Linked DNA regions of Homo sapiens: region 1 is linked to region 2. Evidence: fine-mapped expression QTL. A gene starts in region 2. The other region holds a variant in brackets. All regions are shown on one strand. Distances are from middle to middle.

Region 1 (16,240 bases), 20 kb after region 2:
TGGTGTTTTCTTGAGGAGTAGAGGAACTTGGTGTGCCACTTTCAGATGTTTTAAGAAGACAAACATTTCTATTTTTTTTAAAAAAAAGCAAGAGAGAAAGAAAGAAATTTGCATTAAAGGCATTAGGCAAATACAAAAGCAGCTCACACCCAAAAAGCAACGCAGCAAATTTTATTCTTCTGGGAAACTCTCTTCAAAGTAAATCCAACTACAGGACTCTAATAAATTGCAGAGATTAAATGTAAATCAAGCCACCTCTCCCTCTGGAGAAAACTAATAGGCACAGACAACCTGAAAAGAGGACAATGATGAAGTTCCACCTTCTAACTGGAAAAACAAACAAAAAAATCAAAGAACAAATTCTGGGAATTTATGCTGCCGATGATATTACATAACTAGACACCCTTCTCTTAGCTCCATGCTGTGTGCAGAAGAGGGTGGGTTATCTGAGATAAAGACAGTGGGCCAGAGCCTTGATCAGAATAAACAGGGCTCTAGTTTCTGAAACAAAGAGAAGAGGCAACAAGCTTAAGGGCTATATTGCCAGCAAGTGGATTTTACTCCAAGCTAATACAAAACATGAAGATCATGTTTTGAATCTTCATTCAAAGGCGTCAGATCCTTCTTTTTTCTCATGGCTATTGCTTCCTTGATTCAATGGTAACATTTGTTTTAAAGTAAGAGAAGATAGGCAGAGAAGTCTGCTAATCTCTTAACTAATCTGCACCTGGCAGAACAGTACCTACTGAAACTGCAGGTTCAAGTGTTTTGAGGGAAATGAACGAAACTTTTAAGAACTCAGACTATAAAAGTGATGAAAGTACAGCAGCAAGTGCTCCCCATGCATACTCGCCTTTGTGATGCGATTTTCCATGCATACTCGCCTTTGTGACTCGATTTTCCATACATTTGTATAGAATGTAAAGAAGAGGCAGTTGGGGTGATAGGTGCAGATGGTCCGACACACAAAAGCATCTGGAGTGAGAACCCTGGCAACATCCACATCTGAGAACGCAAGATGCTGGAAGATGTTCATGTGGCAACCTGTGAACTCACAGAGAGAAGATGTTCCTTAGGAAATGACATGAGGCTAAATTTGCTTGTATTTTGTCACCATAGTTAAGGAAATTGTGACTATTTATTATTCATAGTACTAAACATCCTAAGTGAAAAAATGTCCTTTAAAGTATCTCCAAACTGTTTGCCATTTAGAGGAAGGCAAAATTGGTCTAACTCTAAGGGGCAAATTCCTATTTCAGAGAAATAAAAGCTGTGCTCCCAGCTCCAGTCACCACCATTGCCAAATGCTTGCATTACTCAGCATGTGTTTACATTTCCTTTATATTACTCTGACTCTGAGGCCTTAGGAATGTAAGGGTTTTTTTGTTGTATTTTCCTGAATATTATAAAAAATTCTTTAATAAGAAGTGATTAACAAAAATGCCTTGTGCCTATTAAAATTAGAACAGGAGACAATCCACTTTTATTATCATTACATTAATATGATCTTATATCTTAGTTTTGTTTTAGTTGTGTACATATCGTTTATGTAGTTTACTAAATTTGATAACACATAATTCCATTGATACTCATTGGTCTACAGATTCAATGCACTCTCTATCAAAATCCTGCTGCTTTTCTATTGCAGAAATTGACAACCATCCTAAAATTCATATGGAAATGCAAAAGATCCGGAATAACCAAATTAATCTTGAAAAAGGACAAAATAAAAGCACTCAGACTGTCTGAGTTCAAAACTTACTGCAAAGTTATGGTAATCAAGACTGTGTGTAACTGGCATTAGGATAGGCATATATAGGTCAACAGGATAGAACTGATGGTCCAAAAATAAACTCTTACATTTATAGACAATTGATTTTGAAAAGGGTTTCAAGACAATGGAATAACTGAATACCCACATGCAAGAATTAAGTTGGATTGCTACTTTACACCATATACAAAATTTAATTTAAAATGCATCAAATGCCTAAATGTAAGAGCTAAAACTATAAACCTCTAAGAACAAATCATAAGCAAAAATCTTCAAAACCATGAATTAGGTTTTGGCGTTTTAGGTAAAGCACGTGCAAGAATAAAGCCAGACTGGATTTCATCAAGTTTAAAAACTTTGGTGCTTCAAAGAACACCATCAGTAAAGTGAAAAGATGACCTGCAGATGCACAGAAAATTTTTGAAAATAATATATGTCATAAGAGTGTAGTATCCAGAGTATATAAAGAGTTCATACAACTCAACAATGAAAATAACCCAATTATTTTTAATGGCCAAAAGATTTAAACAGAGATTTTCCCAAAGAATGTATTCAAATTGAAAATGAGCACACGAAAAGATACACAACATTGTTAGTCATTAGGGAAATGCATATCAAAACCACAGTGAGACACCACTTCACACTGCCTAGAAAGGCAATAATTACAAAGACAATAACAAGTGTTGTTAAGGTTGTAGAGAGACTGAAGCCCTCAATTGTTGCTGGTAAGAATGTAACATTGTGTAGCTGCTCTCAAAAACAGTTTGGCAATTCATCAAAAAGTTAAACATGGAGTTACTCTGTGATCCAGCAATTTTAATCCTAAGTATATACATAAGAGAATTTAAAATGCATGCCTACCCAAAAACTGTTGTCCATAGCAGCATTATTCATAAGAGGCAAAAAAAAAAAAAAAAAAATCCAGAAACAACTCAAATGTTCATCAAACTAAGTATATAAACAAAATATGTTTTATTCATACAATAGAATCTTATTTAGTCCTAAATAGGAACAAAGTATTGATATATGCTAGAATACGAATGAGCCTTGAAAACACGCCAGGTGAAAAAAGCCAGATGCAAAATGTGCTGCATTGCATGATTCCATTTATGTAAAATGTCCCGAAGAGTCAAGTCCACAGACATGGAAAGTAGATTTAGTGGTTGCCAGGGGATTGGAGGAGTAGGGAATGGAGAAAGACGGCCAATGGGAAAGGAGAAAGACAGCCTTTCTTTTTTTTTTTTATTTTATTTTTATTATTTTTTTGTGAGATGGAGTCTTGCTCTGTCGCCCAGGCTGGAGTGCAGTGGCGCAATCTTGGCTCACTGCAAGCTCCGCTTCCTGGGTTCAGGCCATTCTCCTGCCTCAGCCTCCTGAGTAGCTGGGACTACAGGCATCTGCCATCATGCCCAGCTAATTTTTTTGTATCTTTAGTACAGATAGGGCTTCACCGTGTTACCCAGGATGGTTTCAATCTCCTGACCCCGTGATCCGCCCGCCTCGGCCTCCCAAAGTGCTGGGATTACAGGCGTGAGCCACCGTGCCCGGCCTGGATACAGCCTTTCTTTTGTGGTGATAAAAATGTTCTGGAACTAGACAGTGGTGATCGTTGTGCAATCAGGTGGATATACTAAAAACCACGGAGTTGTACACTTTCAAAGGGTTAATTTTATGTTATCTAAATTAGATATCAAAAATTTTAAATCTACTATGAAAAAACAATATATGCCATATTAAATACCAAGCTTGTAGAAGGGATTCATGTAAAACAGACACATTATTTATATACATAAGAATTAAATTTTCTTGGTATTTTCAGCAGTTTCATAGTGATTCTCAAACATCCTTCAAGTCTTATAAAGTGCGATTAAGCCCCATCTTTTCCAAAGTGTATGTATGATTCTAAGAACTTTACATTTATCCATGTTAAATGTCAGGCCTCTGGGCCCAAGCCTACATGCATACATCCAGATGGCCTGAAGTAACTGAAGAATGACAAAAGAAGTGAAAATGGCCGGTTCCTGCCTTAACTGATGACGTTACCTTGTGAAATTCCTTCTCCTGGCTCAGAAGCTCCCCCACTGAGCACCTTGTGACCCCCCACCCCTGCCCGCCAGAGAACAACCCCCTTTGACTGTAATTTTCCACTACCTACCCAAATCCTATAAAACGTCCCCACCCCTATCTCCCTTCACTGACTCTCTTTTTGGACTCAGCCCGCCTGCACCCAGGTGATTAAAAAGCTTTCTTGCTCACACAAAGCCTGTTTGGTGGTCTCTTCGCATGGACACACGTGATATTTGGTGCTGTGACTCAGATCAGGGGACCTCCCTTGGGAAATCAATCCCCTGTCCCCCTGCTCTTTGCTCCATGAGAAAGATCCACCCATGACCTCTGGTCCTCAGACCAACAAGCCCAAGGAACATCTCACCGATTTTAAATTGGGTAAGCAGCCTCTTTTTACTCTCTTATCCAACCTCTCTCCCTATCCCTCAACCTCTTTTTCCTTTCAATCTTGGCGCCATCCTTCAATCTCTCCCTTCTCTTAATTTCAATTCCTTTCATTTTCTGGTAGAGACAGAGGAGACGCGTTTTATCCATGAACCCAAAACTCTGGCACTGGTCATGGACTTGGGAAGATAGTCTTTCCTTGCTGTTTAATCACTGCAGGGACACCTGCTTGATTATTCACCCACGTTTCAGAGGTATCTGATCACCGCGCGAATGCCTGCCTTGATCCTTCACCCTTAGTGGCAAGAACCACTTTCCTGGGGGCAAGCACCCCCCCACCCCTTCTCTCCATGTCTCTACCCTCTCTTTTCTCTGGGCTTGCCTCCTTCACTATAGGCAACTTTCCACCCTCCATTCCTCCTTCTTCTCCCTTAGCCTATGTTCTCAAGAACTTAAAACCTCTTCAACTCACACCTGACCTAAAACCTAAATGCCTTATTTTCTTCTGCAATGCTGCTTAACCCCAATACAAACTCGACAATGGTTCCAAATAGCCAGAAAACGGCACTTTCGATTTTTCCATCCTACAAGATCTAGATAATTCTTGTCATAAAATGGGCAAACGGTCTGAGGTGCCTGACGTCCAGGCATTCTTTTACACATTGGTCCCTCCCTAGTCTCTGTTCCCAATGCAACTTGTCCCAAATCTTCCTTCTTTCCCTCCCATCTGTCCCCTCAATCCCAACCCATCTGTCCTCTCAATCCCAACCCCAAGTGTTGCTGAGTCTTTCCAATCCTCCTTTTCTATGGACCCATCTGACCTCTCCCCTCCTCCCCAGGCTGCTCCTTGCCAGGCCAAGCCAGATCCCAATTCTTCCTCAGCCTCTGCTCCTCCACCCTATAATCCTTCTATCACCTCCCCTCCTCACACCCGGTCCAGCTTACAGTTTCATTCCACGACTAGCCCTCCCCCACCTGCCCAACAATTTCCTCTTAAAGAGGTGGTTGGAGCTAAAGGCATAGTCAAGATTAATGTTCCTTTTTATTTATCCGACCTCTCCCAAATCAGTTAGCGTTTAGGCTCTTTTTCATCAAATATGAAAAACCCAGCCCAGTTCATGGCCCGTTTGGCAGCAACCCTGAGACGCTTTACAGCCCTAGACCCAGAAGGGTCAGAAGGCCTCTTATTCTCAATATGCATTTTATCACCCAGTCAGCTCCTGACATTAAAAAAAAAAAACCAAAAAACAAACAAAAAAAAACTCCAAAAATTAGATTCCAGCCCTCAAACCCCACAAGAGGACTTAATTAACCTCGCCTTCAAGATGTACAATAATAGAGGCAGCCAAGTAGCAATGTATTTCTGAGTTGCGATTCCTTGCCTCTGCTGTGAGACAAAACCCAGCCACATCTCCAGCACACACAAAAACTTCAAAATGCCTAAACTGCAGTGGTCAAGCATTCCTACAGGACCTCCTCCATCAGGATCTTGTTTCAAGTGCCAGAAATCTGGCCAATGGGCCAAGGAATGCCCGCAGCCTGGGATTCCTCCTAAGCTGTGTCTCATCTGTGTGGGACCCCACTAGAAATCGGACTGTCTAACTGGCCTGGCTGCCACTCCCAGAGCCCCTGGAACTCTGGCCCAAGGCTCTCTGACTGACTGCTTCCCAGATCTTCTTGGCTTAGCGGCTGAAGACTGACGCTGCCCGATCACCTTAGAAGCCTCCTGGACCATCACAGATGCTTTAGGTAACTCTTACAGTGGAGGGTAAATCCATCCCCTTCTTAATTAATACAGAGGCTACCCACTCCACATTACGTTCTTTTCAAGGGCCTGTTTCCCTTGCCTCCATAACTGTTGTAGGTATTGACCGCCAGGCTTCTAAACCTCTTAAAACTCCCCAACTCTGGTGCCAACTTGGACAACATTCTTTTATGCACTCCTTTTTAGTTATCACCACCTGCCCAGCTCCCTTACTAGGTCGAGGCATTTTAACTCAATTATCCGCTTCCCTGACTGTTCTTAGGCCACAGCCACACCTCAATGCCACCCTTTCCCCAGTTCAAAGCCTCCTTCACATCCTCCCCTTGTGTGTCCCCACCTTAATCCACAAGTATAGGACACCTCTGCTCCCTCCTTGGCAACCTATCGTGCACCCCTTACCATCCCATTAAAACCTAATCACACTTACCCCGCTCAATGCCAATATCCCATCCCACAGCATGCTTTAAAAGGATTAAAGCCTGTTATCACTCACCTGTTACAGCGTGGCCTTTTGAAGCCTATAAACTCTCCTTACAATTCCCCCATTTTACCTGTCCAAAAACCGGACAAGCCTTACAGGTTAGTTCAGGATCTGTGCCTCATTAACCAAATTGTCTTGCCTATTCACCCCATGGTACCAAAGCCATATACTCTCCTATCCTCAATACCTCCCTCCACAACCCATTATTCTGTTCTGGATCTCAAACATGCTTTCTTTACTATTCCTTTGCACCCTTCATCCCAGCCTCTCTTCGCTTTCACTTGGACTGACCCTGACACCCGTCAGCCTCAGCAACTTACTTGGGCTGTACTGCCACAAGGCTTCGAGGACAGCCCCCATTACTTCAGTCAAGCCCAAATTTCTTCCTCATCCATTACCTATCTCGGCATAATTCTTCATGAAAACACATGTGCTCTCCCTGCTGATTGTGTCTGGCTCATCTCCCAAACCCCAACCCCTTCTACAAAACAACTCCTTTTCTTCCTAGGTATGGTTAAGTACTTCCGCCTTTGGATACTAAGTTTTACCATCCTGACTAAACCATTATATAAACTCACAAAAGCAAAGCTAGCTGACCCCAAAGATCCTAAATCCTTTAGCCACTCCTCTTGCCATTCCTTAAAAACAGCCCTAGAAACTGCTCCCACACTAGCTCTCCCTAACTCATCCCAACCCTTTTCATTACACACAGCCGAAGTGCAGGGCTGCGCAGTCAAAATTCTTACACAAGAGCCAGGACCACGCCCTGTAGCCTTTCTGTTCAAACAACTTGACCTTACTGTTTTAGGCTGGCCCCCACCCCCATGACTGTATCTCTCTGATCCACCTGACATCCACTCCATTTCCCCATATTTCCTTCTTTCCTGTTCCTTACCCTGATCACACTTGGTTTATTGATGGCAGTTCCACCAGGCCTAATCACCACTCACCAGCAAAGGCAGGCTATGCTGTAGTATCTTCCACATCTATCACTGAGGCTACTGCTCTGCCCCGCTCCACTACCTCTCAGCAAGCTGAACTCATTGCCTTAACTCAGGCCCTCACTCTTGCAAAGGGACTACGTGTCAATATTTATACTGACTCTAAATATGCCTTCCATATTCTGCACCACCATGCGGTTATATGGGCTGAAGGAGGTTTCCTCACTACACAAGGGTTCTCCATCTTAATGCCTCTTTAATAAAAACTCCTCTCAAGGCCACTTTACTTCCAAAGGAAGCTGAAGCCATTCACTGCAAGGGCCACCAAAAGGCATCAGATCCCACTGCTCAGGACAATGCCTATGCTGATAAGGTAGCTAAAAAAGCAGCGAGCATTCCAACTTCTATCCCTCACAGCCAGTTTTTTTCTTCCTCATCTGTCACTCCCATCTACTCCCCCATTGAAACTTCCACCTATCAATCTCTTCCCACACAAGGCAAATAATTCTTGGACCAAGGAAAATATCTCCTCCAGCCTCACAGGCCCATTCTATTCTGTCATCATTTCATAAACTCTTCCATGTAAGTTACAAGCCACTAACCCACCTCTTAAAACCTCACTTTTCCTTTCCGTCGTAAAAATCTATCCTCAAAAAATAACTGCTCAGTGTTCCATCTGCTACTCCACTCCTCCTCAGGGATTGCTCAGGCCCCCTCCCTTCCCTACACATCAAGCTCGGGGATTTGCCCCCGCCCAGGACTGGCAGATTGACTTTACTCACATACCCGGAGTCAGGAAACTAAAATACCTCTTGGTCTGGGTAGACACTTTCACTGGATGGGTAGAGGCCTTTCCCACAGGGTCTGAGAAGGCCACCGTGGTCATTTCTTCCCTTCTGTCAGACATAATTCCTCAGTTTGGCCTTTCCATCTCTATACAATCCGATAACAGACCGGCCTTTATTAGTCAAATCACCCAAGCAGTTTCTCAGGCTCTTGGTATTCAGTAAAACCTTCATACCCCTCACCATCCTCAATCTTCAGGAAAGGTAGAACAGACTAATGGTCTTTTAAAAACACACCTCACCAAGCTCAGCCTCCAACTTAAAAAGGAGGACTCTGTCAAGGATAGAGCCCAAAAACTCACCAACCAAGCAAGTAATTACACTGAACCCCCTTAGGCACTCTCTAATTAGATGTCCTGGGTCCTCCCAATTCTTAGTCCTTTAACACCTGTTTTTCTCCTTCTCTTATTCAGACCTTGTGTCTTCCATTTAGTTTCTCATTTCACACAAAACCATATCCAGGCCATCACCAATCATTCTATATGACAAATGCTGCTTCTAACAACCCCACAATATCACCCCTTACCATAAAATATTCCTTCAGCTTCATCTCTCCCACTGTAGGTTCCCACGCCGCCCCTAATCCCGCTCGAAGCAGCCCTGAGAAACATCGCCCATTATCTCTCCATACCACCCCCAAAAACTTTCGCCACCCCAACACTTTACCACTATTTCGTTTTCTTTTTCTTATTAATATAAGAAGACAGGAATGTCAGGCCTCTGGGCCCAGGCCTGCACGTATACATCTAGATGACCTGAAGTAACTGAAGAA[A/T]GACAAAAGAAGTGAAAATGGCCGGTTCCTGCCTTAACTGATGACGTTACCTTGTGAAATTCCTTCTCCTGGCTCAGAAGCTCCCCCACTGAGCACCTTGTGACCCCCCACCGCTGCCCGCCAGAGAACAACCCCCTTTGACTGTAATTTTCCACTACCTACCCAAATCCTATAAAACGTCCCCACCCCATCTCCCTTCACTGACTCTCTTTTCGGACTCAGCCTGCCTGCACCCAGGTGATTAAAAAGCTTTCTTGCTCACACAAAGCCTGTTTAGTGGTCTCTTCACACGGACGCACATGACATTAAATATATGCAATACTTCAGCCCAATGTCCTAACCTGTTAAAATTGTTTTTACTTTGCTTTTCCTATCTAATATGTTGGGCACTATTTATAGATATTTTGGCCAAGCAACCAGTTGATTTCTAGGACATTCTCTATTTCAAGTATGCCATCTGGTTAGCCTCCGAACAGAAACCATGATGTTGCTTCCCCTAATTGCAATTTTATCAACCAGCTTCGTTTATCAGACTTTCTTCCCCAGAGGTGATAAAAATAAAAAAACCTTTTTTTTCCAATTTATGTTTTCCTCCTTTTGGCTTGAAAATATGTGTACCATCTCAATTGATAAATTAATAAGTCACATGGTAGGAATTTTCCATGTCAGAGTTGCAAATGGTTTTGTTAAATTAACTGAGGAAACGTGGTTAGCCTGACATCTCTCAAGATCTATGCAGGAAGATGGACCACAAGAGAAGGAAATCTGTAAATATAATGAATTCATATGTGTTGAGAGGCAGGAGGCTTTAAAACACCATTAAATCCATTAAAAAAACAAAAGGTGGAGTGAGCACTGTGAAATGTGTGTGACCCAAGGGTCGAGTTCTGGTTCAGCTCATCAGCTGTGTTGCCCCCGGAGCACCTTCACTTCTACCCTCCTTCCAGGAGCCTTAGGGGTTTTGTTTGTAAAATTAGGAAAATCCTTGGTGAAACCAAGGACAAATCTGTAGTGATAACTACAGATCATCCCTAACTTATGAATCTCATTTGGGCAGTTAGGCCAGGAGACAGCCCTACTCTAGGTTTAGGAGGCATGTGGCTACTGGGTGTTCCCTGAGGAACGGGGACCACGTACTCAGTGAAAAGCCACGCCCTTAGCAGCTCAAAACACCACCTGAAACAGCCATATTTTTATCAGTCTGTAAAGGCCATTTGATCCGATTAAATCACATGTGAACTCACTGCAATTTAACAAGAAAGCAAGTACACAGATGAGCCATCCAGGGTGCTCTCCCAGGTGTGGACAGCAGCTGTGACAGCCCAGAGCCACAGCACGAGCTTGCCTGTTCCCTGGGTAAGTGCAGCAAATCCTTCCAGCAACAGGGCTGGGTACAGAATGGAGCATGTTTGCATCGAGTCCTGCCTCCTGGCAGCCTTCAAAAACTCTCCCAGAAAAAAATAATATGAACGTTAAAATTAAATCACCAGTACACGTGAACCTGGCACACACCATGGAGAAGGTGTGCTGTCGCAAAGAGGAGACAGGAAAATAGCCACCTTGTAACCAACCTTCCCAATCTTCCACAGGGAAATCCTAGCCCAGCACCCAATACAGGGCCAGGCACAGAGCCAGCACCCAGTACTGCGGAAAACTGGCCGTAAGGGATTTGCTTTTAGTAACATCTTGTCATTAACATCCTGACATGCTAAATGAGGTGGAATGTCATGGCAATTTTCTGGATAATTCCATTGAAATTACCTTTATGTGTGAAACGACAGAGTTTTATTTCCCTACCCCTGGTAGAGTCATTTCACTAGATAGGGACACAACCAAGGAATGACCTTACAGTTTTGCTACAACATCACTGTACCTATAACTATAACAATATCACTGTCCTATAACTATTACAACGTCACTGTACCTATAACTGTAACAATATCACTGTCCTATAACTATATCACTGTCCTATAACTATAACAATATCACTGTACCTATATCACTGTAACTACATCACTGTCCTATAACTATAACAATATCACTGTCCTATAACTATAACAATATCACTGTACCTTTAACTATAACTATACCACGGTAACTATAAGAATATCACTGTCCTATAACTATAACAGTATCACTGTCCTATATCACTGTACCTATAACTCTAACAGTATCACTGTACTAGTTTCCTATAACTATAACAATATCACTGTCCTACAACTATAACAGTATCACTGTACTAGTTTCCTATAACTATAACAATATCACTGTCCTATATCACTGTACCTATAACTCTAACAGTATCACTGTACTAGTTTCCTATAACTATAACAATATCACTGTACCTATAACTATAACAGTATCACCGTACTAGTTTCCTATAACTATAACAATATCACTGTCCTATATCACTGTCCTATAACTATAACAGTATCACTGTACTAGTTTCCTATAACTATAACAATATCACTGTCCTATATCACTGTACCTATAACTCTAACAGTATCACTGTACTAGTTTCCTATAACTATAACAATATCACTGTCCTATAACTATAACAGTATCACTGTACTAGTTTCCTATAACTATAACAGTATCACTGTCCTATATCACTGTACCTATAACTCTAACAGTATCACTGTACTAGTTTCCTATAACTATAACAGTATCACTGTCCTATGTCACTGTACCTATAACTCTAACAGTATCACTGTACTAGTTTCCTATAACAGTATCACTGTCCTATATCACTGTACCTATAACAGTATCACTGTACTAGTTTCCTATAACTATAACAATATCACTGTACCTATAACTCTAACAGTATCACTGTACTAGTTTCCTATAACTATAACAATATCACTGTCCTATATCACTGTACCTATAACTCTAACAGTATCACTGTACTAGTTTCCTATAACTATAACAATATCACTGTCCTATATCACTGTCCTATAACTATAACAGTATCACTGTACTAGTTTTCTATAACTATAACAGTATCACTGTCCTATATCACTCTACCTATAACTCTAACAGTATCACTGTACTAGTTTCCTATAACTATAACAGTATCACTGTCCTATGTCACTGTACCTATAACTCTAACAGTATCACTGTACTAGTTTCCTATAACAGTATCACTGTCCTATATCACTGTACCTGTAACAGTATCACTGTACTAGTTTCCTATAACTATAACAATATCACTGTACCTATAACTCTAACAGTATCACTGTACTAGTTTCCTATAACTATAACAATATCACTGTCCTATATCACTGTCCTATAACTCTAACAGTATCACTGTACTAGTTTCCTATAACTATAACAGTATCACTGTCCTATATCACTGTCCTATAACTCTAACAGTATCACTGTACTAGTTTCCTATAACTGCTGCTCTAGGGGCATAACCACAAACTTAGTGGTTAAAAACAACACAAATTAATTATCTTACTGTTCTAGAGATTGGGTCTTACTGGGCTAAAATCAAGACATCAGCAGGGCTTCTTCCTCCAGGACGCTCCACAGGGAAACTCTTTCCTCGCCCTTTTCAACTTCTAGAGGCCGCCTGCATTCCTTGGCTCACGGACCTTCATCTTCAAAGCCAGCAGTGTAATACCTTCAAACCTCTCTCTCTGGCTCTGAGCCTTCCGCCTCTCTCTTTTTCTTATGAGCCTTGTGAGCACTCAACCCTGTGAGTACATTGGGCCCATTCAGAAAATCCAGAGTAAACTCCCCATCTCGAAGCCCGTAACTGCATGCCATTGACAGAAACGCTTTTGCCAGCTATGGGAACACACGCACAGGTCCCAGGGCTCAGCACAGGGACGTCTCTGGGGGCTCCTATTCCACCTACCACAATCACAAAGTGAAGTAGTCCTACAATTACCAATTTCTGAAAGGGCACAGGGCTTCAGTGAGAATCCAGATTCCACGTTACTCAGCACCTTTATAGCGGTAGGTGTTCCTCCGGGACTGTACTTTAATAGGCAATTGTTCCTGAATGGGAAGAAAAGAGGTTACTTTGCTTTCTGCACTTTGAGGGGCAGGGAGCAGTGCAGGTAACAGTTAGTATTAAAATGCACAGTGGAAAAACAATGACCCTGATAATGAGTGGGTTAGGGGTCTGCATTATTAACCTAATGGACATCCTTCCCCTCGCAAAGGGGTAAAGGAAAAGTTAGGGTGAGAATGAGGCAGGAGACTCCGTGACACTAAACCCTCATTCTATAAGCAAGGCCTATGTGTGGGGCAAACGGAACTTCAGGAAAAATGACACCAAAATTCGCTTCAGGAAAGCGAAAAATGACACAGACTTCAGAAAATGACTTCAGAAAAAATGACACCAAAATTTTGCTTCAGGAAAAAATGACACCAAAATTGAGTAGAGCATGGAGCGATAGACAGTAGAGACTGGGAAGGTGACAGAGAGGTGGGAAGGGGGCGGGCGTTGAAAAATAGCTTAGTGGGTACAATGTACATGACTCCAGTGATGGATATACCAAAAGCCCAGACTTTACCACTGTAAAATACATCAAAGTAACAAAATTACACTTGTACCCCATACATCTATGCAAATAAAAATAAGATTTAAAAATAAGGAAAAAAATCACAAGTTAATATCAAATTGTGATTAGCTCTATGAATGAAATAAACAGAGCTGAGTGTGACTTAAAAGAGAATGCTCAGAAATGGGCTTTTGGAGGGGACGGTATTTGAGGAAAGACCTGCAAGAATCAGCTTTGGAGAAGTAGGGGAAGAGGATGTCAGGCTTTGAAGATGCGGTACAATTACATGCCAGGGGAAAAGAGTAGAGAAACAAATGAAATTAAATGAATTATTTAATTAAAAAATGAAGGGCGAGGCGCAGTGGCTCATGCCTGTAATCCCAGCGCTTTGGGAGGCTGAGGTGGGTGGATCACAAGATCAGGAGTTCGAGACCAGCCTGACCAACATAGTAAAACCCCGACTCTACTAAAAATACAAAAATTAGCCAGGCATGGTGGCGGACGCCTGTAATCCCAGCTACTCGGGAGGCTGAGGCAGGAGAATCGCTTGAACCCGGGAAGCGGAGGTTGTAGTGAGTCGAGATTACGCCACTGCACTCTAGCCTGGGCGACAGAGCGCGACTCCATCTCAATAAATAAATAAATAAATAAAAGATAAAAAAATAAAATAGAGTAAGTAAATGAGGAAAGTGGTTAGAATAAAAGCCCTGTTTGGTTTTTAGTTTGGGAACAAAAGAGGTTAAGAAGAATACAGTGAAATCCTGGAGGCACCAATACAAAGAACACACACCTTGAATTGTACTCACCGGTACTCTGCCTTGTGAAATGTTTGCGTGGCATATGAAAAAAACTGGCAGCGAATGTTACTGGTGCACCTTTTTTGGCATTCTTCAACACTGCTAACCTTAGACACATTAAAATTGACTCCTCTCATATCAACTCCTTTATAAATGTCTCGATGGCAAGCTGTACAAGAAAAATACATAGAGCAAATACAGTCCATTTTCTTTCTAGAGGTAGATTAGATACCCACTACCATTTGGGTTGGTAGTTTAGAATGATAATAGCCCAGTTTTGGCAACTGCTATATTAACTAAGGGATTTAAAATTTTTATTATGTACATAAATTATCGAACTCTGCTTGAAGTAAATACAATCCAATATTTTCCCTAAAGCACTAGCTTTGAAATTGGGTTACTTCACTTCTTAAACTGCAAGATGCATGCAGCAATACAGGTAAATTTCACGTTGAAATTATCAATGAGCAGTGGGAAATAAACAAGGCAATAATAATGAGGACACTGATAATGTGTGCTGAGGTTTGCATTATTAAAGAAACTGATGTGCCTTTGACCTTTCGCATTGAATGAAAGAGCTTCTCTATCTCCCAGTGTTATTTCTTTGCTTTCGACTTCTCCTGTCTGATGACAAATTGCATCCAGATCAATCATTACAAAATGTGGAGAGTTGTTGTTTACGCATGATGAAACCACTTCCATTCTTGCTTTAAAATAGTGTTAACTTCTATTTAAGCACCCTTTTCATTGAGATTTGTCTTACATGCAAAAGATACAGATAATTCTTTTCACAGACAGTGAAGCAAAATTAGGCTCTTTTTTTTTTTTTTTTTTTTGAGACGGAGTCTCGCTCTGTCGCCCAGGCTGGAGCGCAGTGGCGCGATCTCGACTCACTGCAAGCTCCGCCTCCCGGGTTCACGCCATTCTCCTGCCTCAGCCTCCCGAGTAGCTGGGACTACAGGCGCGCGCCACCACGCCCGGCTAATTTTTGTATTTTTAGTAGAGACGGGGTTTCACCGTGTCAGCCAGGATGGTCTCGATCTCCTGACCTCGTGATCCGCCCGTCTCGGCCTCCCAAAGTGCTGGGATTACAGGCGTGAGCCACCGCGCCCGGCCTCTTTTTTTTTTAAAGATTCAAATTTCTTGGTTAGACTTTTGGTTAAGGAAGTAATGTAACCAGAAGTATAAACTGTATACTTTTTTAAAGTTTTATTCCCCAAGATTATGTGGAATAAACCATAATCTACTACAGATACCTTTCCACTCCTAAGAAGTATGGTTGAAGTCATAAAACTAAATTTAAGGGTGGGAAAGACAGAAAATACACAAACTGTCAGGAAAACTATATGACAGTACGATGAGTTGGGCAGGGAGGTGGATTATTCACTGTGGTTCTTAAACACAGGAATTTGCAGACTGTGGAAACGAAGTCTCTTTCCTATTTTTCTGCATGTGAGAAAAGAACAGGCTAAGAGTTGGGATGCGACTCTTACAAATAAAAACTCTTTAAGTGTTCATACGGAAGCTCTAAATGCTTTTGACTAGAATTGTTCTTGAGTGTAGAGATTTTATGTACTTGGGAACAATTTTTCACTTTAAAAAACATTAAAAGCAAGCTAAGTGAGTAACAGTGAGTTTTAGAATACATGAACAATAACAGGAATATTGAGAAAGGCACAAATTACTTTTTCTTTAAATTTTGCTACAAGATACAACAATCAGAAATAGCACTTACTCGAATAATTTATACCAAATTGGATTAACATAAAAATTGATCTTTTAAAATAGGAAATGTACTCCACCTCACGTAGACTACACCTATTATACTGGCTAAGTCAGGCCCACATTTATAATGAAGGCATTGCCATCCTTTGATAACTGGTTAAAATGCAAACAGCAGGCT
Region 2 (15,299 bases):
TGGAAACCCCACCGTGGAAACCCCACCTTTTGGTGGAAAGCAATCTTGCTACATTAAAATAGTACTTTTAAGAAGAATATTAACTGATGAATCAAATAAATGTTCTATATTTAATAATGCGGAGTGGGCGCAGTGGCTCATGCGTGTAATCCCAGCACTTTGGGAGGCTAAGGTAGGTAGATTGCTTGAGCTGAGGAGTTCAAGACCAGCCTGGGCAACATGGCAAGACCCTGTCTCTATAAAAAATACAAAAAAAAAAAAAAATACTAGCTGGGCATGGTTGTTTCCACCTGTAATCCCAGCTACTCGGGAGGCTGAGGTAGGAGGATCTCCTGAGCCTGGGAGTTTGAGGCTGCAGTGAGCTGTGATTTTACCACTGCAATCCAGCCTGGGCGACAGAGCAAGACCCAGTTTCTCTCTCACTCTCTCTCATGTGCACATGCGCACACACGTGTTCTGTGTGTGTGTGTGTGTGTGCATCATGCACTAATTTCCTTAGAATATATCCCCCTCCTAATTGGATTATTTAATTTTACAAGACAAATTGATTTTCAATATGCCACTAGATGGGAGGATGGGAGTGGGGTGAGCGTTGAAAAATTACCTGTTGGAGGCTGTGTTCACTACTTGGGTGATGGGTACACCAAAAGCCGGCACTTCACCGCCGCATAATATATGTATGTAAGAAATCTGCACTTACACCCCCTAAACATATAAACATTTAAAAATTTTTGGAAAACAATTTTGGAAAAAAACTCTGCACACGTTGAGTACAGATACAATTTTTTAAAAAATATTTCACGTCAAGGTTGTTTGAGTGCATGGATGTGGAACACATGGAACACATGCTGCTTCTAGTGTCAGTAAAAACTAGTTCATCTGCTTTTGCGAACGAGCAAGTGCTTGCTGTTGTATATTGACGTTGTATCGAGACTTCTTACTCATTTAATTAATTGGCTCAAATAATTTATGTGATGGTTAATTTTGGATTTTTCTAGGTACTCAATCACATCATCTGTGAAAAACGAGAGCTTATGTTCCTCCTAATCGTTTTCCTTTTATTTCCCTTCCTTACCGCACCAACGAGTACCTCCAGTCAAGAGTAAATGGAAATAATGGGAAGTATTCTTGTCCTATTCTCAATCCCTTGGGAAAGCTTTCAATATTCCGCTATTACGTATTATGTTTCTTGAAGATTTTTGGTTTGGATTTTTGTTTGCTTTTGTTTAAAATATCGTTTAATAGCTGATGAAAGTTCTCTTCCATTTCCAGTTTATTTAAAGTTTTGATCATTAATAGAATTTTAGCAAGCATTTTTCGGCACATATTAACATTTAAAATTATTTTTATTTTTTATTATGACAGATAGCATACCATGTGCCATGTAGCCATCTTGAGTGTACAGTTCTGTGGCACTAAGGGTATTTACATTGCTGTGCAACCATCAGCACCATCCACCTCCAGAACTTTTCAACTTCGCCAGCTGATGCTCTGTGCCCATTAAACACCAACCCTCAGCCCTTCCCCTGGCCCCTCGGCCCCTGGCAACCTCTGTTCTAATTTCCGTCTTGATGAAATTGACTACCCTAAGTACCTCCTATCAGTGAGATCCCACAGTATTTGTTCTTTTGTGACTGGCTTATTTCACTTAGCGTAATGTCCTCAAGGTTCATCCATGTCATAGCATGTGTCAGAATTTCCTTTCTTTTTAGGGTTGAGTAATATTCCTTTGTATGTATGTACCACACTTTATCCAGTCACCTGTTGATAAACACATGGGCTGCTTCCACCTTTGGGTTAGTGTGAATAATGCTGCTATGAGATGGGTGTACAAGTATATCTGTGTGAGTTCCTGCTTTCCCTTCTTTTTTTTCGGTATGTACCCCGAAGTCACACATCTATTGATTTTTGAATGTTAAATCAACTTTTCATTCCTGGAATAAACCCAACTTTGTCACAATATCACAATGTAATCATCCTTTAATTTTTTTAACAATCTACTGGGTTAAGTTGGATAATATTTTGTTTAGGACATTTGTACATATGTTCATAAGATAAAAGACCTGTGACTTTTTTTCCTCAGAATTTTCCTATCAGATTTTGGTGTCAAGATTACCCTGACCTTATAAAATGGGCTAGAAAGGGGTTATGTTGACCTCTCAAATATGTGTGTCTTCCATTTAATTAATTTCTGCGATTTCTTCTTTCTGCCTTCTAATTTCTTAGCACTTAAGTTGCTATTCTCTATCTTCTTGTCATCTTATATCATTAATTTTTCCCTTTTCTGTATTCTAATGTATACATGTAAATCTATACATTTGATCTCAACACTGATTCGGTTACATCTCAAAGTTTTGATATACTGTACTTTCATTATTGTACAATTCCTTTTCTAATTACCATTGTGATTTCATCTCTGATTCATCTTAATCTAAAAAGGTATAAATACTCAATTTTCAAACATTTGCAGATTTTCAATTCCCTTTTTATTATTATTCTAGCTCCCATTCACGGTGATTATAAATACTCAATTTTCAAACGTTTGCAGATTTTCAATTCCCTTTTTATTATTATTCTAGCTCCCATTCACGGTGATTGAATAACATGATCAGTATAATTTTAACCCCTTAAAATTTGTTGAGCCTTGTTTCAGAGGCTTGTGTGTGGTCAATATTTGTAAATGTTCCATGTGCATGTATAAAGGACCTAAATATGTACACTATCATTCCTTGATATCTATGAGGGATTGGCTGCCAGACCTCCTGCAGATACCAAAATCCATGAACGCTCAAGTCCCTGATAGAAAATGGCATAGTATTTACATATAACCTACTCACAGCCTCCTGTGTACTTTAAATCATCTCTAGATTACTTATAATACCTAGTACAATGTAAATACTATGCAAATTGTTGTTATACTGTGTTGTTTCGGGAATAATGACAAGAAAAAACTCTGCACATGTTGAGTGCAGATATAATTTTTTTTAAAAAATTTCACTTCAATGTTGTTTAAATCCATGGATGTGGAACCCCTGATTCAGGGTCAATTGTTTATGTAGTTATTGGGTCCAGTGTTCAAAATATATCAAATTATTTAGCGCTGACATATTTATCAATGAAATAACAATACAATTTCCAGATAATTATAACAAAGGAATATTATAACCTGAGCAGTAGTCTTGTCACAGAGAAAATTGAAATTATGAGCTGTGTAATTTAATATATTAAGTGGAATTTACTTTTAATATCTTCACCTAGGTTTGCCTTTTTTCACATAGGCCAGCAAAAAGAATTTACTATGCTTAAAATGCTAGCAATAGTATCAGAAATTAAATATAACATGTAGACATAAGCTATTTTTCTAAAGGAATGCTTCAGCTTTCATTTTAAATAAAGAATGGTCATGGAACTAAACAATACCTGTACTGATATATCCTACTTAATATTGGCTAAGTAATTTATAAACAAATTTAGCAGATGTGACATAGGGTGGAGAATTAACAGGGTAGTTAAATTATTGAAATGCATAAACTGTGTATGAATAGTTACATAACATTTTTCAGTACAAAATTCCTATTTTATGTGTGTGTGTATGTTCCATTGAACTGACTGCTTTATGAAAAACCAACTAATTAGTGAGGCAAATCAAGATTTCTTCTTTTTAATATTGCTTTTAAATATCATTTAAATGAATGATGTATGTAGGCATGGATGTAGATATGGTACACATATAGACACAGATTCCTACCAGTACAAACAATTTTTTCACCTCAATTCCTACCCTGCTTTGAAAACCTCTGGAGCCTCAGGCAGGAAGTTAATAAAAACATTTTATTTCCTTCCCGGCATAAATGGTGTGGGATTCTCCCACATGTGTGGAGATTGCAGTGTGATTTCCCTCTCCCAGCCCATAGTTAAGATAACACTCTACTTACCACCAGAAACTGAAGTAAATAAAATGAAATGTACCACTTGATATAAGAAAATCATCCTACAATGAGAAAAAGGTGCATGCTTTTAGAACATAAAATGTAAATTTATAATTAGTTTACTGACACTAAGACTTACAAGAAATAGGGAGAGAGGGGAGTAGTTAATTCAATAGCATTCACAGTGTTCTCATTATAATGTTGAATTTTCTTTCCCAATCCTGGAGCATTCCTTAGTGTGACTGTGTGTGGCATTCAACTCTTACAGCTCTGCAGAAGCCGGAACCCACAGGGAAGCAGCGCTCTCCCCTCCTCCCTCCTTCCCCGCCGGCCCCGCCGCTCTCTGTGTTCAGATCCTTCTCATGGCCACCATCTGACCGCTCTCCCCACCCCAATTTTTCATCTTTGTTTCCTTTCCCAATTTTTTTCCTTTCTTTCTTTCCTTGAGGCCTCTCCCTATATCTTTCAAAGAGCTATGAATGATTTCCTACTTAGAAAATTTTCTATTTAAAAAAGTCTGTGGCTGATACATTAATCGATTGTCTTGGTCACCTATAAATCTATTTATCTCCAGTAAGCATTAAACAGACTGCTCTAGGAAAAACGGAGTCATCAGTGAGACAAATCAAGACTTCTGATTTTTCAGTACTGCATTTGGATGTCTTTTTAACTCGTAAAACGCTTGTTACTGAGTAGACACTGTTACTCTTCTGTTGTTCCACATTTCCTCTCAGATTAGTTATGGATATTAGCGGAACATCTCTACAAAGCTAAATCAGACACATTTTAAAAATCAATCATTCTCTATTGTAAAGTGTTTTTAAATTCCTATGATTTAAAAAAAGCATTTCAAGGCGTATTTGCTTGAGAGGAATGTTAAATAGTAAGTTCTGAAACTGTACCTGAAAAGACCTTGTTGGCTTACTTGCTGCAATTCTTAATAAGGGTGCTTTTCTTCCTCCAAAATGGTCTTCATCCTCCTCTGAATGAGCTTGTGTAGGAAATGGTCACTTCACTTTAATATTTACTTGTACTAGTTCTCAATGTTATGTAACATTCTCTCTCAGTACAGCATATTTGTGAAAGTCGTTAAAATCTTAGTATGTCAGAAATATACCTTGAGAGAATTGCTTGCTTTCTCAATACACTGAATTTATTTTTTTAATTTTATTTCGTATTCAAACAAGTGACATACACAGGGACAGATGTAGAACTTGATTTTGCCTGTGTGCCTGCTAGCCAAAGCTGCATTTAACCACACTTTCACCTGTCAGCTGTTAACCATTAATTCTAGCTGACCTTGAATCTCAAAGTCTAAAAAGAAAACATGGAAAGTCTAATGGATTCATTGATTTGCAATATAATGGAGGGAGGAGACTTTGGCTGCTGGGGGAGAGCGGACGGATGGGAAGCAAAGTACAGACAGCTCCTAAGAGCCTGGCTCTTGCCCAGTCAGTTTCCCTTCAGGTGACGCTGCCTCTCAGAGGCCTAAGCAGATAGGATTCCTCCTAAGGCCAAGCTTTTTTTTTTTTTATTCTTACTTGTGAACACTAAAAGTCTATTTTTTAAAACAGAAAAATAAGCTATTTCAGCTTGCTTGCTTCTTACTTTCTTTCTTTTCTTTCTTTCTTCTTTCTTTCTTTCTTTTCTTTCTTTCTTTCTTTCTCTCTTTCTTTCTTTCTTTTGAGACAGAGTCTCTCGTCGCACAGGCTGGAGTGCAATGACGCGATCTCAGCTCACTGCAACCTCCGCCTTCCAGGTTCAAGTGATTGTCCTGCCTCCGCCTCCGGAGTAGCTGGGACTACAGGCCCGCGCCACCACGCCCAGCTTATTTTTTTTTCTTTTTTCTTTTCTTTTTTTGTATTTTTAGTAGAGACAGGGTTTCACCATGCTGGTCAGACTGGTCTCAAACTCCTGATCTCCAGTGATCCGCCAGCCTCAGCCTCCCAAAATGCTGGGATGACAGGCATGAGCCACCACGCCCGGCTTCTTTTAGCTTTCTTTAGGTCCTGGGACACAGACCCGAATGGAGAGCTAGGAAGTGACATGTCTAGCAGCTGCATGACTGTCAACGAAAGCACAGCACGTCACATCCCTGAAGGAAAGGGTGGTTTTGTCCTGGAGGGAGTCTTCCCACTGGACAGTGGGAAGTGGGACACTGGACAGTGGTAGGACCTGGCGTTTATAGGCAGGAAAGTTTGTGAAAAAATTCTGGGGTGTTTCACATAATTATATTTCCATGAAGGCCTTCCCTTTGGCCTTGAAGAAGGTCTGAAAGCCTATGGAGGGCATGTTCATCCATGCCAACTGCTACCCAGACCTACTCACTGGCTGACGAGTCATGTGACTTGAGCGGAACCAGCCTGTGCACAGTCCCCAGCCACCTGCAGGTCCTTGGCTTCCGTTTCCTCATTTAGAACACAAGGCACTAACTAGTGCTGAGGGTTTCTGTGCGGTCCCCTAAAAAACCTCACAACACGAACACAAAACAGTTTTCAATATGCCTGATTTGAATACATTTTGGAGAAAGATACGTTTATGGTTCAGAGAAGGCTCTCAATTTTTCATAGAAAAGCAAAATACGATCTTGTGTTTATACATGGAATCATAATTTAAAAAACATATTTGGAAGACCGGGGAGAAATGACAGGGAATTAAGAGAATGTGAACTGAGAACAGATCTTTTTGTAAAGTGCTGAAGAACTAGGGTGATGTTCTATCTGGAAGGCATTTACTCAGATATTTTTATTTGATCTATTGCCAGTGCATTTGACTTATCCTGGCATAAAGAGTTCCTAGCTGTTTTCTTGAGTTTCCCGTTTAAAGTACATTCCAGCTACCCAAAAAGTGCATATTTATGATGCATTGCCTTTTATGAGGCTCAAACATAGAATGGCAAATTCGTGCCAAGAATGGCTTTCATGGAAAATGGATACGTGAGATTATATGAGGTCCTTATATCCTTGTATTGTTTACTCCATGGAACCTCATCTCTCTTCTTAAGCCCCAATAAAAAGAAGATAAGGATAACTCTCCAACCCTATTGAGAGAAACAGAAAGGCTCTAAATAAGAGAAATGCTTCACTGGAAAACCAAATAATATTTTCCTAAGTTTGATTTAGCTAGTTAGTGAAATCTTTAAGGTCTTTGAAATAGTATCAGGATTCAAAAAAATTTTGTCTATTCAAATAAAAGTAGAATAATTTTTTTTCAGACAAGGTCTCACTCCTGTCGCCCAGACGAGAGTACAGTGGTGTGATCTCCACTCAACGCAGCCACCAGGTGATCCTCCCACCTCAGCCTCCTGAATAGCTAGGAATACAGCCGCATGTCACTCCGCATGGCTAATTGTTGTATTTTTTGTAGAGACAGGGTTTTGCTGTGTTCCCCAAGCTGGTCTGGAATGCCTGGGCACAAGCGATCCACCTGCCTTGGCCTCCCAAGTGCTGGAATTACAGGCATGAGCCACCGTGCCCAGCCTAGAATAAAAGTCTTGACTACATAGAAACTCTTTGAGATTAAATAGACCTTTCTTTTAAACTGACCATAGATATCCTTAAAAAATTATTTTCAACTAATGCATTGCAGTTTAAAATTCTGATATCAACTACTTTTTTCAATTTTTTTTCAATGAAATGAAATGTTTTTGAATATTCGAAGACTGATGAAAATGAGGAATAACTAGACAAAGTCTTAGGAAGAATATAGAAGTTAGTCTGCAGAGACCCAAGTACAAGTCAGAAGTTAGGATTCTAAATCAAAAAGTATCTGAGACAGGTCCCAATCAATTTAGAAAGTTTATTTTGCCAAGGATAAGGATGTACCTATGACACAGCCTCATGAGGTCCTGATGACATGTGTCCAAGGTGGTCAGGGCCCAAGCTGATTTTGTACATTTTAGGGAGATATAAGACATCAATCAATCTATGCAAGATGTACATTGGTTTGGTCCTAAAAGGTGGGACAACTCGAAGAAGGGAAGGGGGCTTCCAGGTCATAGGTAGATAAGAGACAAACAGAAGCATTTTTTCGAGTTTCCAATTAGCCTTTCACCAAATACGCAATTTACAAGAATAGTCACTCATGCCTTAGTGTGGCCCAGTGAAACAATATGGCAAACGAGGCAATCAGATACGCACCTGTCTCATGTCAGCAGAGGGGTGACTCTGACTTCTGCCTGTCCTTTTTCCACAAGGAATTTCCTCATGGGCAAATTGTGAGGAATGTAGCTTTTTAAAACCTTTTTAAAGCTTAAAAAAGGTTTTTTATAGCTTAAGAAAGCTATTTTATTTAGGAATAGAATGGGAGGAAGGTTTGCCCAATGCAGTTCCCAGCTTTACTTTTCCATGTGGCTTAGTGATTTTGGGGGTCCCGAGGTTTGTTTTCTTTCCAATGGATCATAGGTGGGAGATGTATTGGACATTTGGACATATTGTGACCTAAAGCCTTCTGCTTGGGACAGGAATGTCCACAACGGCATTAGTTGACTGAGACCCCTTCTCAGGCATGGCCATAATCAACTCTCAGAGCTCCTTCTCTTGTCTTTCAGAACTTGCTTTGAAAATGGACACAATAAAAAAGAAGGAAATCATTCCATTTGCAGCAATGTGGATGGAACTGGAGGTCATTATGTTAAGTAAAGTAAGCCAAGCACAGAAAGACAAACATTGCATGATCCCACGAAAGATGATTTCATGGCCGTAGAGAGTATATGGTGGTTACGAGAGGCTGGGAAGGGTGTGTGTGGGGGGGTGGTGGTGAGGACGAAGAGAGGTTGGTGAAGGGGTACAACCACAGAGTTAGATAGAAGGAATGCTTTCTAATGTTTGACAGAAGAGTAGGGTGACTGCAGTCAACAACAAGGTATTATAGTTTTCTAAATAGCTAGAAAAGGACTTGAAATGTACTCAACACATAGAAATGGTTGGGTGATGGGTATGCCAACATCCTGACTTGATCATTACACATTCTATGCACATAACACAATTTCACATGTGCCCCACAAATATGTACAAATAGAATGTATCAAAAAGTAAAAAATAAAGGAAGAGAAAGGGCACAGCCCGCCATGTCCTACAACCCCTTTCTTGCTGTTCCTGAAATGTCCTCTTTTGTTTTTCTTTTTCTTTTTTTTTTTTTTTTTTTTTGAGACGGAGTCTCGCTCTGTCGCCCAGGCTGGAGTGCAGTGGTGTGATCTCGGCTCACTGCAAGCTCCACCTCCCGGGTTCACGCCATTCTCCTGCCTCAACCTCCCGAGTAGCTGGGACTGCAGGTGCCTGCCACCACGCCCGGCTAATTTTTTTTTTTTGTATTTTAAGTAGAGACGGGGTTTCACCGTGTTAGCCAGGATAGTCTCGATCTCCTGATCTCGCGATCCGCCCACCTCAGCCTCCCAAAGTGCTGGGATTCCAGGCGTGAGCCACCGCGCCCGGCCGAAATGTCCTCTTTTCATTACAAGGTTTTAATGCTGACATGAGATCAGGCTTTCCCAACCCTGGCATTATTGATATTGGGGCAGGATAACTCTCTCTTGCGAGGGGCTGTCCCACACACTGCAGGATGTTTAGCTGCATCCCTGGCCTCTACCCACTACAGCCAGTTGCATACCCTCTCCCATTAGGACAACCAAAAGTGTCTCTAGACGTTGCCGAATGTTTCCTGAGGTGAAGGGAGGACAAAATCGCTCCGGGCAGAGAAACACCAGTGTCAGTTGATAATGAAAATAACAAATGGTGGTTATAAATGCTCTGTCATCTTTCATCCTTCTCCTAGTGAGAAGCAACCGGATATCAGTGAGAGGACATTGCCTGGCATAGGAATGCTGAGCTTTGTTCCAGCTCTGTCCTTGCCAGTGACCTTGAGCTAATCATTTCACCTCTTCAGTCTCCATTGCCTTTATTTTTGTAATAAAGGTGTATCATCATCATTAGCCGTTTACTGGATGCCCATGATATGCACTATGAATGAGAGAGCCTCCCTAGAAGCTGCTCACAGTCAAGTAAAGTGACAGACATAAGCAACAATTGAAAGGAAAAGTTCCAAGTTTACGTGGGGGGTTCCCATGCCTTGGCAGGGACTGAGACAGATGTTGGAGCCCTTGGCTGACCTTGGAGCCAGGTGGCTTGTGCATGTGCTTGCATGCCACGTGTACACTGCCGCCACAGGAGGGCAAGGCCAGCTTGCAGGATTGACACTGCCAGCAGCCTTTGTGAAGTAGAACTGCCAGTGGCCCACGCCTCCTCCCGTCACGCTTCCTCATGGGAGTGAAGGCATCCCAGCCTCGCATTTTCCTAGCCCATGTCACACTTTTTAGTCCCACGAGGCTAGACCTGTGTGAAGGGCTCCTCAGTTACCCCTGTATATGAGCACACAGTGAGTCACCAAGACACCAGCCCAGTCCTACTGGGCTTTGATTGACCACTTTAAAATGACAATGTATGCCTCGGGAAAGTTCCATATTTCAAAACTCTCCTCTGTTTTGCCAAACTAGGTCATTCCCTGACTAACAGAGGCCAAAGGTTTACCCTGCAAGCATTCCAAAGTCCTGTTCCAACACCCCATGATCAATACTCAAAGACTGAGATAAAAGTTTCATTGCAAACCATTTTTTCCCTTTTAAACATAAAAAAACATCCACATGAACAAAGACTAATGTCTTCATCGCATGCAAAGGCAAAATTTAAATAGTGCATTTTTAAAATCGTTTCATGGAATCTAGCCAGATTTTACAAAAGCCATTCAATTCTGAAGTAAATGTTTAACTCTTCAGTTTCCTGCTATCTGGTTTGTGGATAGCCCAGACCTCATATTTTCCTTCACCCTCTCCACCTTTAGCTCCTCCTACCACCCGGTGTGTCTCTGAGCAGGGGTTCCCAACCCCCGGGGCCCAGAACAGTACCTGGTCCATGGCCTGTTAGCAGCCAGGCCGCACAGCAGGAGGTGAGTGGCAGGCCAGCAAGCATAACCGCCTGAGCTCTGCCTCCTGCCAGATCCGCAGCAGCATGAGACTCTCATAGGAGCTCAAACCCTGTTATGAACTGCACATGTGAGGGATCTAGGCTCCTTATGAGAATCTAATGCCTGATGATCTGTCACTGTCTCCCATCACCCTCAGATGGGACTGTCTAGTTGCAGGAAAACAAGCTCAGAGCTCCCACTGATTCTACATTATGGTGAGTTGCATAATTATTTCATTATATATTACAATGTAGTAATAATAGAAATAAAGTGCATAATAAATGTCATGCACTTGAATCATTCCAGAATCATCCCCCACCACCATGCTGGTCCATGGAAAAACTGTCTTCCACAAAACTGGTCCCTGGTGCCAAAAAGGTTGGGGACCTCTGTCTTGAGCATTGAAGGAAAAACCCAAACTCTTTCAGAAAACTTTTTTCTGTTTTTCTACTTAACTTACATAAGATTTTGTAAATCGCCAATTCTGTGTAAATGTTGTTCAGTTTAACTGAACTGAATCAAGCGAGCTGGTATCAGTTACGGTGAGCCTCGGCATGTGAGGAATTTGTGTGGCATAGGACATCTATCACCCATTCCAAAGGCTACCATAAATTTACAAGTCTGAATTTTATGAAATAATTTATACCTAACAGGGCTGGGTGTGGTGGCTCAAGCCTGTAATCCCAGCACTTTGGGAGGCCGAGGCGGGTGGATCACAAGGTCAGCAGATCGAGACCATTCTGGCTAACATGGTGAAACCCGTCTCTACTAAAAATACAAAAAATTAGCCAAGCACAGTGGCGGGTGCCTGTAGTCCCAGCTACTCCGGAGGCTGAGGCAGGAGAATGGCGTGAACCCGGGAGGCAGAGATTGCAGTGAGCCAAGATTGCACCACTGCACTCCAGCCTGGGCAACAGAGCAAGACTCCGTCTCAGTACTACTACTACTACTACTACTACTAATAATAATAATAATAATAATTTATACCTAACAATGCTTCCTTTTTTTGAGACAGTCTCACTCTGTTGCCCAGGCTGGAATGCAGTGATGCAGTGGTGCCATCTCAGCTCACTGCAGCCACGACATCCCCGGGCTCAAGCGGTCCTCCTGCCTCAGCTTCTGGGGGAGCTGGGATTACAGGTGCGCACCACCATGCCCAGCTAATTTTTGTGGAGATGGGGTTTCGTCACATTGGCCAGGCTAGTCTCGAACTCCTATGCTCAAGTGATCCACCTGCCTTGATCTCCTAAACTGTTGGAATTACAGGCGTGAGCCACCACGCCAGGCCTAAAAATGCTCCTTGAATTACTATTGCAATAGCCCATATCCACTGAGCCTCCAGGGCTAATGCCCCTTGCAAAGCAGATTCCTTGCCTGCCATGAAGGCTGTGCAATGCTGCAGCCCCTCGAGCTCCTCAGCACGCGCAGCCTGGACCCTCCTAGCCATGCCCTGGTAGCAAAGTTAGGAGGCCAAGAGGCAAAGGTGCCCATGGGTTCAGGTAACCCATCTCTTTCTTATAAAAGTGGGTGTTCTCCCTTCCTCTCGGCAGAACAAAACCCAAGCCCGCTAGCTCTTTGCCACACGTGAAGCAGGCAATAGTGGGTTTCAGTGGCCGACCAGGTGCAGCACGGAGAGGAAATTACATCTTTGAGATATACTGAGTTCCAGAGGAAGCAGTGCAATTAGAGGGATCCCAGGAACTGTGCTGGAACCTCAACCACTTACTTTCAGTTCTGTTTCACAACCAGAAGAAAACACTTGCTAATCGTGATCTTTCACCATTTTATTTCACAACACACAGTCATGGAGATCTCAGTTGCGACCTCGCATTGTCAGCCCCTGGTTACGGCGTGCTGAAAGCGGGCTTCAGCCAGACATTGTCCTCAGCAGCTCTGAGTGCACTGTGTTTTTCGTCCTTAGGATGCAAAGAAGATGCCACTCTCCATGCTTTGCAGATGAGGACCCCCCAGGCTCAGAATTTGACTTGAACTCAGGTTGTAAAAATTGCCTAGACTCTGGACTGCTTCTCATGCTGGTGACTGCATCTGAGCTTTTCCATCACTGCTCTGTGTTTTCTCTAAAATCCAGTCCATGTACTCAGCGACTTTGGTGTAGACACCAGGTTGCTCCCTGCGGGCACAGCCTTCACCCCAGCTGGTGATGCCCACCAAACGCCACATTCCATTGTGTTTGCAAACTAAGGGACCACCTGAATCTCCCTGAGTCACAGTGGAAAAATAAAATAGTAGAAAGTTACGACAATGGGATTCAAATAAGTGACTGCCTCTAAAGTTCTGTAGTCCACTACACAGCAACACACACACACAGATACTTTCATATTTTTTTGTAGAGATGGGTTTCATCACATTGCCCAGACTGGTCTCAAATTCCTAGGCTCAAGTGATCCACCTGCATTGGCCTCCCAAAGTGCTGTGTGTGTGCAAGACCTTGCTTGCCAGACACACACACACACACACACACACACACACACACACTCACTCTTTCTTAAAGTTCTCCAAGTATCTCATGTGCCTGCATTTTTCGTATCCCCTTTTCTATCTGAAATAAATCTAACAAAGAAATCTTGATATCATCATCCCAATGATGAAGTCTAATGTTTTTATATTCTAGCACAATTATTGCATGTATATTTGCCCCTCTTAAATAGCACATGCATAGATTGTGACATATATCATAAATAATATAAATATATATTATGTATATTCAATTTGTTAAAAGTTGCTTATCAATTTATCAGATCATTTGTCTCTGAATTTTTTTAAAAACTATGATTGAATTATGCTATTGGAAAATATATTTTGAAATGAATTTTCTCAAGCAGCCTATTGTGTTTTTCATAATCTCATGAGTTACCTTACAAGCATCTTTTCCCCCTTCTTTATAGCCAGCACAGACCATCCGTTGGGTTATTTTATAATCTTGATATCTTTTCTGGCATTCTTCATTTGTTACCAAAGGAATATTTACCTTTTGTAGAATATTTTGGATTTCACCTGTGAGTAACCAATATATAACCTCAGAGGGAAGTTAATAATAATAACTTAAATAATAAATAATAATATTGGGAATATTATTATTCCCACAATAAATAATAAATATGGAAATAAGTTTTAAAGTGAATCAGAGCAGTGTATTTTTCATAAGGACCTTATCTTTGAATACAAATAGACAGTAAAAATTGGGAAGGTAGTGTTACACACACACACACACACACACACAGAGAGAGAGAGACAGAGAGAGGAAGAGGGAGAGAGACGGCACCCTGTACTGTCCTCTTATTGCCTACGTGGTGTTGGGACAAGCCCAGCACCCTGGGCTGACCAGAGACCTTGCTTCCATGTTTTCTGCCATCCCCTCATCTCAGTAGCAGCCCCCCAGAAATCCCATTTTATATTTATCACCTACAACAATCCAAAGCCTGGAAGTTCTCACTTTTCATTTTTTTGCTTTATATATTCAAAATTATAATTTACAACTATATCGTTTCTGAAAAGCCCTCCGAGCTTTGGCAACAGAGGGGTCTTTTGTTTTTGAATAAATGCAGGCCAGCATCTCTCATGGAGAACAATGTTGGGAGCTTTCATGGCTTAGTGAAGATTACTTTAAATTTCTTCTTGTCTCAGATTACCAATAAAAAATCTAAAAATGTGAATTACTTGAACAAAAGACTGAATCGGGAAAGATGGAGACAGTTTGGCAAGCTACCTTCTTCTGTAAAGAATGACACAAATATTATTCTCCATAGTGAGACGACACACCTGCCTGTGCTCCCGGCCATTAGCATCAAGGGAGAACATGGTTTTGGGAGACGGGAACGCTACTAACACTGAGGAGCGGGTGGTCTTGCACGGGCTTGTCAGCCCTAGAAGGGCCCAATCTGCTTCATGCAAAGTCAAGCAACTGATCTTTATAATGAAGTAAGATGCTTAAAAGTCTCCCTAAAATTTTTTTTCAAGCCAAAGCAAAAATACATTTTTTAAGAATAACTGAATAAATATTTGGGAATAAATAGATAGGAAAGATAAAGAGTTTAGATATAATTTCAGACAGAAACCGATTAAAACGACCCACTCCATGTATTTCAACATGTGAGACTTACTCTAGAAGCAATATTTAAAGCGTCATGCTTACCTTTCTCCTTCGAGAAGCCCCATCCGGTTACCCAACAGTTGGTATAAATTGTGCTTGTGTCACCTTTGGAAGGTAGGCATATTGGTTTTTGGAATTCTGAAACATAATTTTTAAATTAGAGTTTGGTCAAATAAAGTTATGGATATAGACTTTAAAAATACATCTTTCTCTTTTTCTGTCTTCTCTTTCTATAGAGTAGCATCAAGAATAATTTTTTGCTTTCTGCCCAACCTCTAAGGCTAATGATTCAAGAAAATTTG

Direction of the effects. Alleles are on the strand shown, and positions count from the first base shown. SD is a standard deviation of normalised expression in the study named.
For the expression in prefrontal cortex of the gene that starts at base 4,938 in region 2, T is the low allele of the variant in region 1 and A is the other (small effect, 0.36 SD a copy in CommonMind).

The links.
Region 1: its variant is fine-mapped to the expression of F11 in prefrontal cortex (CommonMind, PIP 0.93).

What each region holds. Positions count from the first base shown.
Region 1 is chr4:186,235,047-186,251,286 of GRCh38, reverse strand. KLKB1 (kallikrein B1) reads right to left here. Exons shown (of 15, transcript NM_000892.5): 5 at 14,347-14,506; 6 at 12,922-13,031; 7 at 885-1,044; 8 at 1-68. LOC124900873 (a long non-coding RNA gene) reads right to left here and starts at 12,882. Exons shown (of 2, transcript XR_007058497.1): 1 at 12,242-12,882; 2 at 10,793-12,122. RefSeq lists enhancers at 733-1,477, 6,932-7,459, 7,460-7,988, 9,577-10,182. The variant A/T (reference allele first, on the strand shown) is at 9,027.
Region 2 is chr4:186,255,828-186,271,126 of GRCh38, reverse strand. F11 (coagulation factor XI) reads right to left here and starts at 4,938. Exons shown (of 15, transcript NM_000128.4): 1 at 4,832-4,938; 2 at 3,936-3,991. The coding sequence starts at 3,990. KLKB1 (kallikrein B1) reads right to left here. Exons shown (of 15, transcript NM_000892.5): 13 at 15,040-15,135; 14 at 13,762-13,901; 15 at 12,656-13,106. The coding sequence ends at 12,915. RefSeq lists an enhancer at 5,808-6,579.